Regions from separate parts of the Homo sapiens genome. Here region 1 is linked to region 2. Evidence: fine-mapped expression QTL. A gene starts in region 2. The other region holds a variant in brackets. All regions are shown on one strand. Distances are between the middles of the regions.

Evidence for each region. PIP is the estimated chance that this variant, and not a neighbour inherited with it, causes the effect. A credible set is the group of variants that fine-mapping cannot tell apart.
Region 1: its variant is the best candidate, but not a certain one, in a credible set for the expression of COPS6 in whole blood (INTERVAL, PIP 0.60).

What each region holds. Positions count from the first base shown.
Region 1 is chr7:100,033,860-100,039,381 of GRCh38, forward strand. ZKSCAN1 (zinc finger with KRAB and SCAN domains 1) reads left to right here. Exons shown (of 6, transcript NM_003439.4): 6 at 1-5,522. The coding sequence ends at 338. Among named protein-coding and RNA genes, the nearest start is that of ZSCAN21, 13 kb to the right of the region's middle. RefSeq lists enhancers at 3,471-3,972, 3,973-4,472. The variant G/C (reference allele first, on the strand shown) is at 2,257.
Region 2 is chr7:100,085,900-100,090,899 of GRCh38, forward strand. COPS6 (COP9 signalosome subunit 6) reads left to right here and starts at 3,070. Exons shown (of 10, transcript NM_006833.5): 1 at 3,070-3,167; 2 at 3,391-3,516; 3 at 3,716-3,847; 4 at 4,500-4,588; 5 at 4,693-4,755. The coding sequence starts at 3,092. RefSeq lists enhancers at 1,190-1,883, 3,270-3,961, 3,468-4,667 and a silencer at 2,930-3,119.

The DNA of each region.
Region 1 (5,522 bases), 52 kb before region 2:
AGCGCATCCACTCTGGAGAGAAACCTTATGAATGTAATGAGTGCGGGAAGGCCTTCAGCCAGAGCTCGGACCTCACCAAGCATCAGAGAATTCACACGGGGGAGAAACCCTATGAATGTAGTGAATGTGGAAAAGCTTTCAACCGAAACTCATACCTGATTTTGCATCGGAGAATTCACACTCGAGAAAAGCCCTACAAGTGCACTAAGTGTGGCAAGGCCTTCACCCGCAGCTCCACCCTCACTCTGCATCACAGAATCCATGCCAGAGAGAGAGCCTCTGAGTACAGCCCAGCCTCCCTTGATGCATTTGGCGCGTTCCTGAAAAGTTGTGTGTAAAGGAAGAATTTGCCATCAAGCCATTTCCCCCTTTTGTTTCTAAAATTATTTCAGAGATGTGTGCTCCTGGAGGGAAAAAGAAATACAGCCTCAACAGATTAAAAAACAAAAGTCACACTTAAGGATCCTTCTAGTCACATCAGCAGTGTTCTGCCTTTATGTAGTAGTTGGGCATATAATCCTTCCACACAGCCCCTGCAGGGAAAGGCTAATCTTACGGATAATCCACGTGAGATTTCCACACAAGAGAAAAGCACACGCATAGTGAAATGTCAGTCTTTTCAGTAATGAGGATACCTTTAAGGCACTCTTGGACTCTCGGCAACCACAACATAATAGTTGAAAGATCAAGATTGGCTCCACGAAAGTGATACGGAGGTTAGGATGCTACTTGCTGCAAACAAGCCCTACTTTGGCCAACATCCTGCTTATTTCTCAAAAAAGAGGGACAGTGAAAACAAAAACGACATTGGGACATGCTGCTCAAGGTAGTTATATATACGATAAGTTGTATATATGATCACTGGTAGCCTACCAAAGCTGTAGAAATCTAGGACTGTGCTAATCAGTATCAAACCAAAGATTTCTATCTCTTCCCGAAAGAGAGGGTATGTGCACCAGTCTACAGTTCCAAAGGACTGCAACAAATGTAGATGGTTCTGTCCTCATCCCTGAGATCAGTTCTACTGAAATGGCAACAACAACTCCAAATACATCTCTCCCTTCTTGAAATCCCTAAAGCACTATCGCACTCCTAAATGCATTTCTCCACAAGTTAGCACTTGATTGTATACTGTCTTTTAATCCTTCATTGTTTCATGTATGAAGTTTTTAATCACCCCCTAACCCCCAAAAAAGATTCGGTTGTCAAGGGATATATTTCTATCCCTGCCAGCACAGTGCTGGACATAGTGAGTACTGAACACCTAAGAGGCACTCATTCAGACTGACTTCTACAGGACTTCTACGTGTGTGATAAAAGCCTGTGAATCGTGAGTCCCTGAAATATGGTAGCCTGGCCCAGCTTCTAAAGAGGACCTTCGTAGCCACAAGGCATGCTAAACCTCTAGGGTCTGATGCTGTTTTTGTTCCAAATATAAACGAAAGGCACTAGTCAGCCGCCTGCATAGACTTTCTAAACAGTGAGTAAATACCATGGAATGTCAGAAATGACTTTATCATCGTCATCTTGAAGAAAAATATGAACACTGATGAAGGTCATTTTTTTTTTTTGACATCTTTCTGTGGCAAAGCTCTTAGAATTCTTTGCAGTTAGCTGCTGAACAGTATGATGATTTGGGGATTTTCTGAATCATTTGTACTTAGATACTGGAGTTCAGAAGATGTGATTTTTGTTGCTTTTCAGAAAAAGGAACGTGGTAGGGAGTGTTTTTTCCCACGCTTTTCCAGTAACTTTGCAAAAGCATTAATTGTTCACTGGCAATTACTAAATGTATTTTGTTGCTCTGAGAAACTCAGCAGTGTACTGAGATGTGGCTGGCTGTGCCATCGTCATAGTGCACAGTGACTTTTCTGTTTCTTATCACTAAAGACTGAGGTGAGGTTATGAAACTTTCATTGGTCCCATCGTTGTGCGCAGGGTGCAACTGGCTACCTAGAAGCTGATGGCAGGAGACTGTTTCACACACAGGAGATTGTGAGCTGTGTAAGTAGTCATCGCCACTCAAGTAGGACAAGGGTCCTACCCAAGGCTAGGACCGCCCTGCGGAAACAGAAACATAGACTGAGAACAAACCTCAAGACTATCAGTGTGACCTCCCCATAACAAGAGAACCCCATATATAGTTTGAGACTTTCCCTTGAGAAACTTATACTAAAACTATTACTCATCAGTCATTCACTGATCAGCAGCTAAAGTCCATGAGACCAAATGGTTTTATATGGAACCAACGAAGTG[G/C]GAGCTAAAACTGCACAGTGGTCATTCTTTGGCCTCTCCTTGGCTTTATGACTTAAACCAACTACAACTTCCCTATAGCTTCTAAGCAGTTTCATCAGCATTACTTGGGAAAACGTGTTGCAAGTCAACCAGTCACTAGGATATTTCTACCCATGCAACGGAAGAAAAACCCATTACTCCAGAAGAGTATATCTAAGTAACTAAAATGGAGGCAGAAAATGTTTTAAGGATTTTCTTCAAAGAATAAGCCACAGCAATGGTTTTGTAGAAAACTCCTGTGCTTTTGAGCAAGGACTTTTGCCCTCTAGAAAGCAACTGAGGCCAGGTGCGGTGGCTCACGCCTGTAATCCCAGCACTTTGGGAGGCCGAGGTGAGCGGATCACCTGAGGTCAGGAGTTTTGAGACCAGCCTGGCCAACATGGTAAAATCCCGTCTCTACTAAAATTATAAAAATTAGCCGGGCATGATGGTGGGCACCTGTAATCCCAGCTACTTGGGAGGCTGAGGCAGGAGAATCACTTGAACCCAGGAGGCAGAGGTTGCAGTGAGCCAAGATTGCACACTGCACTCCAGCCTGGGTGACTAGCAAAACTCCATCTCAAAAAAAAAAAAAAGAAAGAAAGAAACTGAAAAGTGAGGTGTGGAACTCCAGGCAACGACCCAAGCACTTATTTTTTAAGAGGGAAAGGACTTTGGTCATGTTTACATTGGCCTTTGGTTTTTTTTTTTCTTTCAGCCACAACTATATGCTGATATAACTCAGCCATCACTTTTGAGTTTTGTTTTTAAATGAAGGTTAAATGTGACCTGTGCCCTCACATTTAATTCCGTTTCATGGAGACATCTTCCTGACTTTGTTGGATAGCTGCCACTAGGGTTGCTTCGATCTTCAGCCACATGCTGTCCTTGAAGCAGCTATTTGAAGATGTGTTTTCTGAGGAAAACAGGCTACAACTGTTTATTAAAACCACTTGCAGTGCATTCGTTTATCAGATGCTCAGTGCAAAGTGTAATTGGGTCATGGTCAAAAACGCTTGCAACATCTAATTGGCGTTCAAGATAGTCATTCAAAAGTTCTTGGCCCGCTGAAGTCTGTTAACAGTTGAAACATTCTACAGTTAACCATTAGCATGCTAGTTGTCCTAATGGAAATTTTTGAAGAGTTTTTCAATATATACCCTACCCTTGCCAGGAAGAGAAGTAAAATCCTCAGGTTGTGGGGTATTTGTTTCTACTCCAGCCTGGCAGGCAAGGCTAAAACCTGAGATTATCGATCTATGAGACATCTTGATATGTAAAGCACTTAATATTAAAGGCATAAAAGTGAAACTGCTAAATATGTATAGAGAGGTTGACGTGTGATACGTGGGACAGTTCACATAGACATCAGAGAATTTATTCCAGAAAGGAGCCTCCTGAATGTGATGAATACGGCAAAGCCTTTAATCACATCTCAGCCCTTAGCATCGGAAAGCTTATACTGTAAATAAACTTGATGAATATTATATGTGAGGAAAACTTTCATGTATAGCACTCATTGCTTCAGACAGAAAATGAATTCCGTCGGTATGTTCCAATCGTGATGAATTTGAGAAACATTGCAAGAGGGAGCTCAATCTTGGCCGGGCGCCGTGGCTCACGCCTGTAATCGCAGCACTTTGGGAGGCCGAGGCAGGCGGATCACGAGGTCAGTAGTTCGAGACCAGCCTGGCCAACATGGTGAAACCTTGTCTCTACTAAAAATACAAAAAAAAATTAGCTGGGCACAGTGGCGCACGCCTGTAGTCCCAGCTACTCGGGAGGCTGAGGCAGGAGAATGGCTTGAACCTGCGAGGCGGAGGTTGCAGTGAGCTAAGATCATGCCACTGGCACTCCAGCCTTGAGTGACAGAGCGAGGCTCTGTATCAAAAAAAAAAGTTGCGGGGGGGTGCTCAATCTTAACTGCAGAGGATCTACAGATGAAAAAAAATGTGGGGAAATGCTTTAAAAAAATAGCAAAATGTGCAACTTCTTACAAAAATTGTTAACGTTAGGTACTTCTATATATTTTATATGACCATAATGTCCGTGTGTGTTTTGTACCTTCAGTCCCTTGTTATTGTTCCGTATATTACCTGTAAGCAGATACTGTATTTTATTTTAGCCTATTTGACAGAACACATCACTCAGAAAAAGTGAAGTTTCAGAGCAAACAGTGAAGAAATCAGTGTGATTGTAGACAAAAAGTCGGTTCACAGAACGGAGCAGCGGGGAGAGGAAGGGAAAAGCTTCATAGTTTGGTGCTTATCACATCAAGAGATTGGTAAATTTCTGAGGAAAGACAGGCTAATGGGGCACTGAAATGGAACAACTCCTTTAAACGTGCAGCCTTTTGAATTTTTCCTCAAAACCAAGAAGTTGACCTCTGAGCTGTCAGGTGACCACTGTGTGCAAAGGGGATGGATTCTCTTGTCAGTAGACGGTCTTCTCCATGAAGCGAGAGTAGGAAGTGTACTGGAATGGCCAAGTGGGACTGCTTCAGCTGACCAGGTTCTTTTAAACCGTAGTCATGCTTTCCCACTAACTCTTAAATCCTTATGCTTAGAAAATTGAGGATAAGGCTGGGCACAGTGGCTCAGGCCTGTAATCCCAGCACTTTGGGAGACCAAGGCGGGTGGATCACAAGGTCAGGAGATCGAGACCATCCTGGCTAACATGGCGAAACCCCGTCTCTACTAAAAATACAAAAAAATAGCTGGGCGTGGTGGCGGGCGCCTGTAGTCCCAGCTACTCAGGAGGCTGAGGCAGGAGGATCACTTGAACATGGGAGGCGGAGGTTGCAGTGAGCCAAGATGGCGCCACTGCACTCCAGCCTGGGTGATGGCGTGAGACTCCATGTCAAAAAAAAAAAAAAGGTTGGGGGGAGGATAGGACTGGCCAGGCACGGTGGCTCACTCCTGTAATCTCAGCACTTTGGGAGGCAGAGGTGGGCGGATCACTTGAGGTCAGGAGTTTGAGACCAGCCTGGCCAACGTGGTGAAAGCCTGTCTCTACTAAAAATACAAAAATTAGCCGGGCGTGGTGGTGGGCGCCTGTAGTCCCAGCTACTCAGGAGGCTGAGGCAGGAGAATCACCTAAATCTGGGAGGCAGAGGTTGCAGTGAGCCGAGATTGCACCACTGCACTCCAGCCTGGGTAACAGAGACTCTGTCTCAAAAAAAGAAAAAAAAAAAAGAAAGAAAGAAAGAAAATTGGGGATAGGAGAACAGCAAGGTGGGCATTTCCCGG
Region 2 (5,000 bases):
CTTAGGTTTAGGGGTAAGGAGGGGGTGGAGCAGCCTAGGCTAGCCAGATGTGAATTTTGGGTTTTTTTATGAGACAGAGTCTTGCTTTGTCAACCAGGCTGGAGTGTGGTGGTGTGATCTCGGCTCGCTGCAACCTCCGCCTCCCGGGTTCAAGTGATTCTCCTCCCTCAGCCTCTCGAGTAGCTGGGATTACAGGCATGCACCACCACGCCTGGCTAATTTTTGTATTTTTAGTAGAGATGGGGTTTCACCATCTCTACTGGTCGAGACCAGGCTGGTCTTGAACTCCTGACTTCAGGTGATTCACCCACCTCGGCCTCCCAAAGTGCTGAGATTACAAGCATAAGCCACTGTGCCTGGCCAGGAACTCAGTATTTAAGGGAAGAAAGCATGCAAGAGGAAAATAAGGAAGAAGGAGAGGCAGTGAGGCAAATGTTTTTTGTTTTGTTTTGTTTTGTTTTTCTTAAGACAGTGTCTCGCTCTGTCAGCAGGCTGGAGTGCAGTGGCGCAATCTCGGCTCACTGCAACCGCTGCCTCCCAGGTTCAAGCGATTCTTGTGCCTCAGCCTCCCAAGTAGCTGGTACTACAGGTGCGTGTCACCATGCCCAGCTAATATTTTGTATTTTTAGTAGAGACGGGGTTTCACAGTGTTAGCCAGGATAGTCTCAATCTCTTGACCTTGTGATCTGCCTGCCTCGGCCTCCCAAAGTGCTGGGATTACAGGCGTGAGCCACTGCACCCAGTCCAGCAAATGGTTATTTTATTTTATTTTTTGAAATAGAGTCTCAATCTGTTGCCCAGGCTGGAGTCCAGTGGGTCCATCTCGGCTCACTGCAATCTCCACCTCCTAGGCTCAAGTGATTCTCCTGCCTCAGCCTCCCAAGTAGCTGAGATTACAGGTGGGCACCACCACACCCAGCTAATTTTTGTATTTTTAGTAAAGATGGGGTTTTGCCATGTTGGCCAGGCTGGTCTTGAACTCCTGGCCTCAAGTGATCCACTCGCTTCCCAAAGTGCTGCGATTACAGGCATGAGCCACTGCACACCCTGCTGCACATTGTTACTTTTTTGTGAGTTTCTCATTAGTGTTCAGTAAATCTACATTTTATGTAAGATACAATAAACATTTGAAAAGAGGGAGTGGAGGAAAAAGTCAGTTATGCATCTGTCTCAGGATAGGTGGAGGGATGATTCCTGGTCTCTTCCTTGTTCTATAATTGGGAAGATAAGCTTGTAATCAACATTGTCAGTATGAGATTTCACAGAACTCGGATTAGGGCTGGTTTATAGGGGGAATGTTTATGCTGAAAGATTCAGAGGCTAATGAGGAATTTCCTGGCAAGCAATTTGTGAGGAAGACCATCTGGGGAGGTATATGCCTTTTGCCATTGTAGGAGCCTGGCTTATGTATGAGGCTATGACACAGGGTTGTGGAATTACAGCTATCTGGGAACAAAAAGGAAGGGAGTTTTGACTCACTTCCCAAGCATAAATTTCCTCGGCATGCCTCTACCATACCCAGCGAATTTTGTTTCCATGTTTTGTTGAAACAAGGTGTCACCATGTTGCCAAGGCTGGTCTCAAACTCCTGGGTTCAAGTGATCCTCCAACCTTGGCCTCCCAAAGTGCTAGGATTACAGGCGTGAGTCACCATGCCTGGCCTTGTGGAGTTATCTTCTTTCTTTCTTTCTTTCTTTCTTTTTTTTTTTTTTTTGAGATGGAGTCTCACTTTGTCTTGCCCGGGCTGGAGTGCAGTGGCGCGATCGCAGCTCACTGCAGCTTCCACCTCCCGGGTTCAAGCAATTCTCCTGCCTCAGGCTCCTGAGTAGCTGGGATTACAGGCGCCTGCCACCACGCCTGGCTAATTTTTGTATTTTTAGTAGAGATGGGGTTTCACCATGTTGGCTAGGCTCGTCTCAAACTGCTGACCTCAAGTGATTGTCTGGCCTCGGTCTCCCAAAATGCTGGTATTACAGGTGTGAGCCACCATGCCTGGCCTTGTGGGGTTATTTTCGAAAGTCCTTGAGATAATTCCTATCTCAGACATGCAAGCATGAGACCTTCTCCTTGGTGTTCTCATGGCTCCAATTTGTTTGGACCTGACAATGTGATTTTGTCCTGGTATCTGCAACTTTCACAAGATGGAGCAACTAACTCAACACCAGATTCCACCCCTAATTATTCCTTCATTCACTCAAAAAGTATCTAGGCTCCAATGTGTCAGGCACCGTGTTGGTCACAGGGGATACCATGATGAACAAGAGAAGGAACCACAGGCTTTTGAATGGGAAACTAAAGCATGTGAAAAACACACGGAGAGCTGGGTGCGGTGGCTCATGCCTGTAATCCCAGTGCTTTGGGAGGCTGAGGATGGAGGATCTCTTCTGCCCGGGAGTTGGAGACCAGCCTGGACAACCTAGTGAGACCCCCGTCTCTATCAAAATAAAAACAAATAATAAAATTAGCTGGGTGCGGTGGGGTGCGCCTGTAGTCCCAGCTACTCGGGAGGCTGAACTGGGAGGATCACTTGAGCCCAGGAGTTTGAGGGTGCAGTGAGCTGACATCAGGCCACTGCACTCCAGCCTGGGCGACAGAGCGAGACCCTGTCTCAAACAAAACAAAACAAACCACCACCACCACCAGACATGAGGGCCAGTGCAGCTGAAGCCTGAAGATCAAGGGCTAGAAGAGGCCAGGCCGGGGCCAGATCAGGCAGGGCCTTGCAGGTTGTGGTTAGTTGTTTGGATTTTATTGTGAGGGAAATAACACGACATGTCATTCCTTCTGCAACAGCCTTAAGAACTAGGCGTTCTTATCCCAATTTCACAGACGAGGACGATCAAGTCGTTAATTTGTCAAAGGTCACCCGCAGGCGACAGGCGGGGACAGGGTCTGGGAAAACCCGCTAGGCACCGAGGCCCAGAGGGCGTCGGGCGTCCCCGCACCGAGTGCCGCCCGCCGCGACCCGGGAACTGCCTGCTCCCCGGACGCCAGGCCCGCCGCACGCCGCGGGGACACCGAACATGCGCCGCTCGCCTTACGGAAGCCGGGAAGGAAGGGGGCGGGGCCGAGGCTGGCGGGCGCGGGGAAAATGGCGGCGGCGGCGGCGGCGGCTGCAGCTACGAACGGGACCGGAGGAAGCAGCGGGATGGAGGTGGATGCAGCAGGTAACGGGCCGTGCGGGGGTGGCTTCCGGAGACCTCCTTCAGGGGTTCGTTGAGGCCTCCCTGTGCTCCCGGGAGAAGGGAGGAGGGCGGAGCAGCAACATCTTTCCCTGGGATAAGTTACGGGAGGAAAGTGTGGCCCGGGCTCCGCCGTCCCCCACTGCCATCTCCAGGGAAGAACGTGGGGCCCGGACTCTCACCCTCTCTCCTTTCCCTCCACCCTTAGTAGTCCCCAGCGTGATGGCCTGCGGAGTGACTGGGAGTGTTTCCGTCGCTCTCCATCCCCTTGTCATTCTCAACATCTCAGACCACTGGATCCGCATGCGCTCCCAGGAGGGGCGGCCTGTGCAGGGTGAGTGTTGGGCATAGACTCCAGTCTCTTCTCCTTGCTCACCTCCCCCAGGCAGTGGTCTTTTCCCCTTCCTCTACTGGAGCCAATTCCCCCTCCCCCAAATCATCGTTTCCCCAATACATGGTTCCCACTGATCTCAGACCCTCAGGTCATAGAAGTTTCTTTACCCTCACCTTTTCCATGTCATTCTCTTTCCCAGTGATTGGGGCTCTGATTGGCAAGCAGGAGGGCCGAAATATCGAGGTGATGAACTCCTTTGAGCTGCTGTCCCACACCGTGGAAGAGAAGATTATCATTGACAAGGAATATTATTACACCAAGGAGGAGCAGTGTGAGAGTGGAATAGATGTGGGGAAGAGGAGTGGGAGTTAAAAAAAAAATGTACAGGGTGGGGAAGATGGAGAGGGTTGGAAAGAAACAGGAGAGGAGACCAAGAACAGGGGAGAAAAAGTGAAGAGTAGCTGGAGAGATCTCAGAAAAAGAAAACGTTCAGAGTTCTTTCTCAAAAGAAAGCAAAGGATGAGAGGAGACAGGATAGAAGGGAGTAGTTATTCTAAACTGAGCCAGGATTTGAGGAGGGAGGAGAGAAGCTGGTGAAAATACACCAGGAGCTTCACATTGAGGAAGGATGGTTTAAAGAATTACTATGTCAGGCCGGGCTCAGTGACTCATGCCTCTAATCCCAGCACTTTGGGAGGCCGAGGTGGGTGGATCATGAGGTCAGGAGTTCAAGACCAGCCTGGCAAACATAGTGAAACCCCACCTCTACTAAAAATACAAAAATTAGTCTGGCATGGTGGTGCGTGCCTGTAGTCCCAGCTACGCGGGATGCTGAGGCAGGAGAATTGCTTGAACCTGGGAGGCGGAGGTTGTGGTGAGCTGAGATCATGCCACTGCACTCCAGCCTGGGCAACAGAGCGAGATTCCGTCTCAGAAAAAAAAAAAAAAAGAATTACTATATGTTCTGGCCCCTTCCCCTCTAGTTAAACAGGTGTTCAAGGAGCTGGAGTTTCTGGGTTGGTATACCACAGGGGGGCCACCTGACCCCTCGGACATCCACGTCCATAAGCAGGTATGCATGCTCACACCTGTGCATGCTGGGGCAGAGAATGGAGAATGAGGGGAAGGAGAAAGGTAGGGGGCACTGACTTCCTGTGCATTGTCCCTCTCTTCCAGGTGTGTGAGATCATCGAGAGCCCCCTCTTTCTGAAGTTGAACCCTATGACCAAGCACACAGATGTGAGTAATACTCCATGCCTACTCTGTCATGATTGTCGCTATACCTTTTACTGTGTGACACTCCTCTATTGGGGAATGCCAGATGCCACTTACCAGCTGTGACTCTGGCTTAGTCATTTAATCTCCAAACTGTGAAAGGAGGTAATCCCTACTTCATTGGTTTCTTGGGAAGATGAGAGGAAATGTGTAAAAGCAGCTAGCCCAAATGTTGGCATATAGTGTTCAGGTTTCTCCGTCTCCTTCAC